Linked DNA regions of Homo sapiens. The protein of the gene in region 1 interacts with the protein of each later gene in a biochemical or structural test. Each region holds a gene or a part of one and is shown in the gene's direction. Other genes may lie near its edges.

Region 1 (3,500 bases):
GAGTCAGGCTCTTCCGGCAAGTCAAGCTCATCCCTGGTACGAGGCGTGCGTCTCTCCTCCAGCGGCCCCGCCTTGCTCGCCGGCCTCGTGAGTCTAGATCTACCTCTCGACCCACTATGGGAGTTCCCCCGGGACAGGTGCGCTGAGCTGTGTGGGGGCAGGGACGCGGGCGCCGGGTTGCAGCCCGCCCTCCGCAGGAGTGACTCGGAGGTCTGAGGCTGGACTTTCTCCATCTCCAGGCTGGTGCTTGGGAAGCCCCTAGGCGAGGGCTGCTTTGGCCAGGTAGTACGTGCAGAGGCCTTTGGCATGGACCCTGCCCGGCCTGACCAAGCCAGCACTGTGGCCGTCAAGATGCTCAAAGGTGAGTGTGGCCCGGTGTGGTGGCTCACACCTGTAACGCCAGCACTTTAGGAGGCTGAGGGTGGGAGGATCGCTTGAATCCAGGAATTCGAGGCCAGCCTGGGCAACATGGCAAGACTTCATCTCTACAAAAAAAAAATAAGAAAATTAGTTGGGTGTGGTGGTGTGTGCCTTTAGTCTCAGTTACTAGGGAGGCTGAGGCAGGAGGATCCCTTGAATCCAGGAGTTGGAGGTTGCAGGGAGCCATGATCACGCCACTGTATTCCAGCCTGGGCAACACAGTGAGACCCTATCTGAAAAAATAAATAAATAAATAAAAATAAAAGGTGAACGTGGCAGCCTGGAGGAGGTGCTATGGCATTGGGACTAATAGAAGGGGCTCACGGTGCCACCAGGTGAGCCCTGGAGCTGGGAGAGGCTGTGGGATCCCACCCTTAAACCTGCAATTCACCTCTGCTCCTGACCCTGGCAAGTGACTTCTGAGCCTCAGTTTTCCCTTGTGTCATATGGGGTAGATAACAGTCCCTACTCCCAGCCCAAGGATTGTGGAAAGTGCCTGGCTCATAGTCAGGGCTCAATAAATCTTCACCACTGGGGTGATGATGATGAGAAGAATTTGGTGTGACAGGCTTGATATCCTGTGTCAGCATTAGTCTGTGTCAGCTTTGACTTCACATCTCCTTGTCAGCCTCACAGGCCCTCTACCTCCTTCCTTATGGTTCCCCCCAGACACACCCTCAGCCTCCCTTGGACCCTCCCTAGGTCTGCCCCCCACGTCCACTGCTGTAGGAGGACAGCCCTTCTGCTTGCACCCAGGCCCAGCCCCGGGGTGCTCTTGCTGGGCACTCCTGCACCCCACCCATCAGGGCCTCTCCTTGCAGTTCCCCAGCCCCCTCTGCAAGAATGGCCTCCACTGCTCTTCTGCTCCTCCCCTCCTCTCTACACAGCTGGGGCCACCTGGTGCTCCCTGGGAGGCAGGGATTGAGAAATGCACATTGTGTCATTGGCCCAGGGCCACAGGTCAGCCCCAGGGGCTCAGCCAGAGAAGCCAAAGCAGCCTTCTTCCCAAGCTCCCCGGCTGCACCCGGCCTGCCGCCAGCTCCCTGAATTCCCAGGCCAGTTGGAAGCCAGGCCCTGGTCAAACAGACCCCAGGGCGCCAGCCTGCTTTCCGCACCCAGAAGCTCTGACCCCATGCGGGGACTACCGCTGACCCCTCCAGCGGCAGCTTCCTTCCTTCCTTCCTGCTCCGAGCTCTTCCCCTCTCTCCTGTGTCCTGGGCCTGCCCGCTGGAAGGCCTGCCTCTTAGATCCTTGATACAGTTGCATCCTTGCAACTGCTGTGACAGGCAGGGTGTGACCCACTGCTCTGTTTCCCACAAGACGAACCTGAGGTTCAGAGACGCTAGGAGACTTTTTCAAGGCCACACAGCCTAGCAAGGATTCAGCCCTAGACCTACGTAGCCCTGGTCCAGTGCTGCTTGTCCTGCACCTGCCTCTGCATGCTCCCTCGTGCAGTTGGAGGGCAGCCTCTTCACCCCGTCTGCTGCCCTTACAGACAACGCCTCTGACAAGGACCTGGCCGACCTGGTCTCGGAGATGGAGGTGATGAAGCTGATCGGCCGACACAAGAACATCATCAACCTGCTTGGTGTCTGCACCCAGGAAGGTGGGGCCGAGGCGGGGCTGGCTGCACGGGCCGTTAGGGTGCAGAGCCAAAGCTTTGGCAGCCTCTCCACGCTCCCTCCACTCCCTCTGCAGGGCCCCTGTACGTGATCGTGGAGTGCGCCGCCAAGGGAAACCTGCGGGAGTTCCTGCGGGCCCGGCGCCCCCCAGGCCCCGACCTCAGCCCCGACGGTCCTCGGAGCAGTGAGGGGCCGCTCTCCTTCCCAGTCCTGGTCTCCTGCGCCTACCAGGTGGCCCGAGGCATGCAGTATCTGGAGTCCCGGAAGGTACAGGCGCTAGGGCTCTGAGCCCCTCTCAGTCTCTCCAGCTCCACTCTCAGGCCTGTGGCATTCAATGTCCCGACTTCTCCCTCTCTGCTCTTTTTCATGACCCCACCTCAGTGTCCCCAGGCATTCACGCTTTCCTGCATTCCCCACTCGTTCCTCACCCTTCCCCAGAGGGGAGAGGGGACGCAGGAGAAGGCACTCCCCGTTTCTAAACCTTGACCTCCTCCTCTGTAAAGTGGGTGGAGGGCCCCTGCCCCCGGGCCTGCTGGGGGGTGGTGTGTGCTCAACTCCAGGCCAGGTGTCCTGAGGCACCCAAGCCCCCGCTCCCTGCAGTGTATCCACCGGGACCTGGCTGCCCGCAATGTGCTGGTGACTGAGGACAATGTGATGAAGATTGCTGACTTTGGGCTGGCCCGCGGCGTCCACCACATTGACTACTATAAGAAAACCAGCAACGTGAGGGAGATGGGGCAGAACTGGATGGGGGTGGAGGGGCACTGGGCCCGGGGTGGCAGGCACGAGGACCTGTGGGACTCTGCACTGAGGCCCTCTCTCCCCTCCAGGGCCGCCTGCCTGTGAAGTGGATGGCGCCCGAGGCCTTGTTTGACCGGGTGTACACACACCAGAGTGACGTGTGAGTCCTGCCGGCGGTCACTGTCCTACCCCACAAAAAGGGCAAGGCACTGCCCAAAGTCACGTGGCCCCAGGAGTCATGCGCTCGAGGGCTCCTTCAGATTTGGTCTGGGACCCGAGTGGGCCCAGACTCCAGGAGGAGCCCATTCCCCAACAGCTGTGGTGGGTCATGTCTGTGGGGTCCCCCGTCCTAGCCCCGGTCGTCGGGAGGGCGCTGAGCCACACTGAGCCCTGGCCCTACCTCCAGGTGGTCTTTTGGGATCCTGCTATGGGAGATCTTCACCCTCGGGGGCTCCCCGTATCCTGGCATCCCGGTGGAGGAGCTGTTCTCGCTGCTGCGGGAGGGACATCGGATGGACCGACCCCCACACTGCCCCCCAGAGCTGTGAGGCCTCACCCTGCCCTCGACCCCACTTTCCAGTCCTCCTCCTCCTCTGCCCTGACCATGGCCTCAGGGTGTGTCCCGGCCAGAAGGACAACACTAACAACAACTCCTCGTCCTCCTCCTCCTCTTCCTCTTCCTCCTCCTCCTCTTCCTCCTCCTCCTCTTCCTCCTCC
Region 2 (3,500 bases), on another chromosome or scaffold:
GGTTAACTATGATACCCACTAGGTTGGTCTTGTATATGAAAGGTATCTTCTGCCATAGTTTTGTTTCTGTGATCTGCCATAATTATGTATAATTTCATATGTGCATTTATTCTGTGGCTATCTCACACAGAGTAAACTGATTTCCAGTCCTTTCGCAGTCATATATCAATGTCTAAAAGGCTAAGAATCAAGCAGTGTTATTAATAATGTATGTATGGAATTTTCTCATTTAACTCACAGATTTTAAGTCTTAGGTATGGAGGTAGGAGGAAAAACCACCATTTCCAAATAGATTACAATTGATCTGAATTCCTTGCATCATTATAGTCCCCTGGGCATCCTTTTCTCTGATAACACCCAAGAGAATTTTGTTTGCATACGAAAATAGAGCAGATATGATCATAATCATTGGGGAGCACATATACAGTGATTTAGACTATATTCCTAGGTTTGCTTTTGCGGCGGTGATGCCTTAGCCTTGTAGGCATTCACCATCAGGGTTGGGGCTTAGTGGACAGTGGTAGAGAGCCATGAGGAGCTTCATGTGTGGCTGTGGGACCAGCTGCTTCCTGTGGGCAGAAGGGTAACGTTTAAGGGTTAGAGGTCTTGGAGGGGAGACCTAGCAGTTACCAGGGATCTTTGCTGTGGCTTTGGCTGTTACTTCTCTCTGACCTGGCCTGGAACAGCCCAGCTTCATGTGTGTTAATCTGGGAAAATTAATCGTAAAGAGAGTTCTAAGCCTCAGGGGATGACATGATGGGATATAACCCTAAACCTCAAGTCGCCCTTTACCCCCAAGGTAAGATAACATGGAAAGAGCCTGGGACTGAGAAGGAAGCTCTGCTGCCACCAATGGGACTTTAAGCCAGTCTCTGGACCCCTTAGAGCCTGTATTTCCTCATATACTGTTATAATCATACCTGGCTTCCCTCCTGGGTAGAGGAGCAAATAGGACAGTATGTACAATGACAGCCCTTTATCTGGCAGAGGCTTGGATGAGCTGTTACCACTGTCTTTCTGTTTGCTGCTTATAGGTAATATTTTCACATTTCTATTATTTTCTGAGTGCTTTCTGTGACAATAGAGAGCGCCAAAGAATCTTCTAGGAAGAGATCTCAGAGATTGTTGAGACCAACCCTGCCCTTTGCTGATGAAACCGAGACCCGGAGAGCAGAGTGTCTTGCCCAGGGTCACACTCCACTGAGTTAAATGCGGAATCATAGACTCTTGCTTAACTGAAGAGCTCAATAGGAAAGTAACAGTAAACTAAAACAGGAAAGCAAAATGCAACTCTTTTCAGTCATCATGCCTCTCCACAGAAAATTTGTTGTTTTTCTTTACAAGAGGGCTCTTGTTAAAGGCTTTTCTCTTTTTGAGGGGGTAAGAGTAGGGCAGTGAGGGTTGTCTTATAAGAAGTGTCTGACTGGCATGTTGCTCAGAGCAGCAATGACAGCAAGGCCTAAAGTCTTTGCTCTTTTGTGTTTGGAAAAGATGGAACTTGATTAGCTTTTTGGGATGCCTGCTATAGACTTAAAATGATGGCTGTATTAATATGTCTTCTTACCATAGAAGCTGTCATTTACTTTAGAGTTATACCTATTAGGCTGGGCGTGGGCTCATGCCTGTCATCCTAGCACTTTGGGAGGCTGAGCTTGGCAGCTTGCTGGGAGTTCGAGACCAGCCTGGTCAGCATAGTGAGACCCCTGTCACTACTATATATATATTAGCTGGGTGTAGTGGTGCACACCTGTAGTCCCAGCTACTGGGGAGGCTGAGGCAGGAGTATGACTTGAGCCCATGAGGCCAAGGCTGCAGTGAGCCATGATTGTACCACTGTACTCCAGCCTGGGTAACACAGCAAGACCCTGTCTCAAGAAAAATAAAAAAGAACTATACCTATTGATAAATATAGACAAGAAAACAAAGTTATTTTAAAGAAAAAGTGCGGAGTGTGATCATATTTTTTCAAAACAGATGTAGTGGGCCTGAGCATGCTCATTAATAGGTTTGAAGCGGCTAATCTCATGGCCTCCACAACCTGGGCACAGCCCCCAGGATCTGCATTTTGAAACATTAAAAGCAGATGACCCTGGAAAGTTTAGTTTTACATGAGCCTATACCAGGATTAAAAATGAAACAAACTCAGCAACATGATTATCTTATTGGAGAAAAATGTAAAATCTGTCACCTTCATAATGCAGTATAGACAGTCCCCATACAACCATTCTGTTTTTCAATCTAAGTATTCAATAAATTATGTGAGCTATTCAACACTTTGTTATGAAATAAGCTTTGTGTTACATGATTTTTCCAGCTGTAGGTTAACGTAAGTGTTCTGAGCATGTTTAAAGTAGGCTGGACTAAGCTGTGTTGTTCGGTACTTTAGGTGTATTAAACACATTTTCAACTTAGTGATATTTTCAGTTTACAGTGGGTTTGTCAAGATGTAACCTCATCATAAGTTGAGGAGCGTCTTTATGGGAAATTTCCCACAATCACCAATCACAAACATGAACCGTGTATATGAAGCCCAGCTTGGTGAGGACCAACACTAGGCATATAGTTTTTCTGTTTTTCAAACTAACACTAAAATGTTTAGTTTTGTGAGAAGAAGGGGAGGGGGAGGACAATATTGAGAAGCTATCCAGTGATATTTGCATCTTCAGGTACAACCAAAAATCCACTGGGCCTGCTGTCATATCTCCCAGGTTATTTGGTGTTCTCTGAAAAACACCCACCTTCTTGCTTTTCTGTAGTGAACAGCTGTGTGCTGTCTGATAAAAGGCCACAGGACAGCTGTGCAGGTAGAGCTGGTGAAGGCACTTTTGAGTGGCCCCTGATTCTGTGCTTTGTTCTGCCTGTCTGCAGTGTGTGCCTCCTGACGAAGCCTGCACCTCGCTGGACGCCTCGATAATCTGGGCCATGATGCAGAATAAGAAGACGTTCACTAAGCCCCTTGCTGTGATCCACCATGAAGCAGAATCTAAAGGTGTGCTTTGGGAGGCACGATCAGAGCATGGGGCCTGAGCTCTGCTTGTTAAGAAGACCCAATAGTGTAAATCAAAGTCCAGCTTTATTCACAAGATAACTAAAGGGCCAGTTAGTTACTTTAGAAGACCATTTTTTGCCCGAAGAGTCTTTTCTTTAGCTGGTTCTCTTACAGCCATTATGGCTTAGTTGTAAGTAATCTATTTGAAAATGATTTCCTCTGTAAAAAGAATCAGGTCTAGGTTGTTCCTGTCATAAGGTCACTCTCCCTTGCATTCAAATATGCTTCCTTGAGTATGCAAAAAAGGGTTCTAGTTAGTCCCATGTCCCGGGAATTGCACACAATCCACAGTTCATCTTTCTGTGATCTACTGCTAAAGTTTATGCTGGCTATAACCTATTGTATTGCTTTATCAAAATTGCAAATGCCTTTGAGAATATGTGAACATTATTCATCTTAGGTGTAACAGATGAGAACCACTGCCCAAATGCATCTTAAAATTCAGTTTTCA

Evidence for each region. Proteins that work in one complex are often made in the same cells at the same time.
Region 2: the proteins of FGFR4 (region 1) and TGFBR3 form a complex in vitro, tested with the Homo sapiens proteins (one large-scale study listed by IntAct).

What each region holds. Positions count from the first base shown.
Region 1 is NC_000005.10:177,093,415-177,096,914, forward strand, and holds part of FGFR4 (fibroblast growth factor receptor 4 isoform 1 precursor), read left to right. Parts: coding exon 1-137; intron 138-239; coding exon 240-361; intron 362-1,915; coding exon 1,916-2,026; intron 2,027-2,118; coding exon 2,119-2,309; intron 2,310-2,642; coding exon 2,643-2,765; intron 2,766-2,872; coding exon 2,873-2,943; intron 2,944-3,189; coding exon 3,190-3,327; intron 3,328-3,500. UniProt on the Homo sapiens protein: Tyrosine-protein kinase that acts as a cell-surface receptor for fibroblast growth factors and plays a role in the regulation of cell proliferation, differentiation and migration, and in regulation of lipid metabolism, bile acid biosynthesis, glucose uptake, vitamin D metabolism and phosphate homeostasis.
Region 2 is NC_000001.11:91,708,152-91,711,651, reverse strand, and holds part of TGFBR3 (transforming growth factor beta receptor type 3 isoform a precursor), read left to right. Parts: intron 1-2,868; coding exon 2,869-2,989; intron 2,990-3,500. UniProt on the Homo sapiens protein: Cell surface receptor that regulates diverse cellular processes including cell proliferation, differentiation, migration, and apoptosis.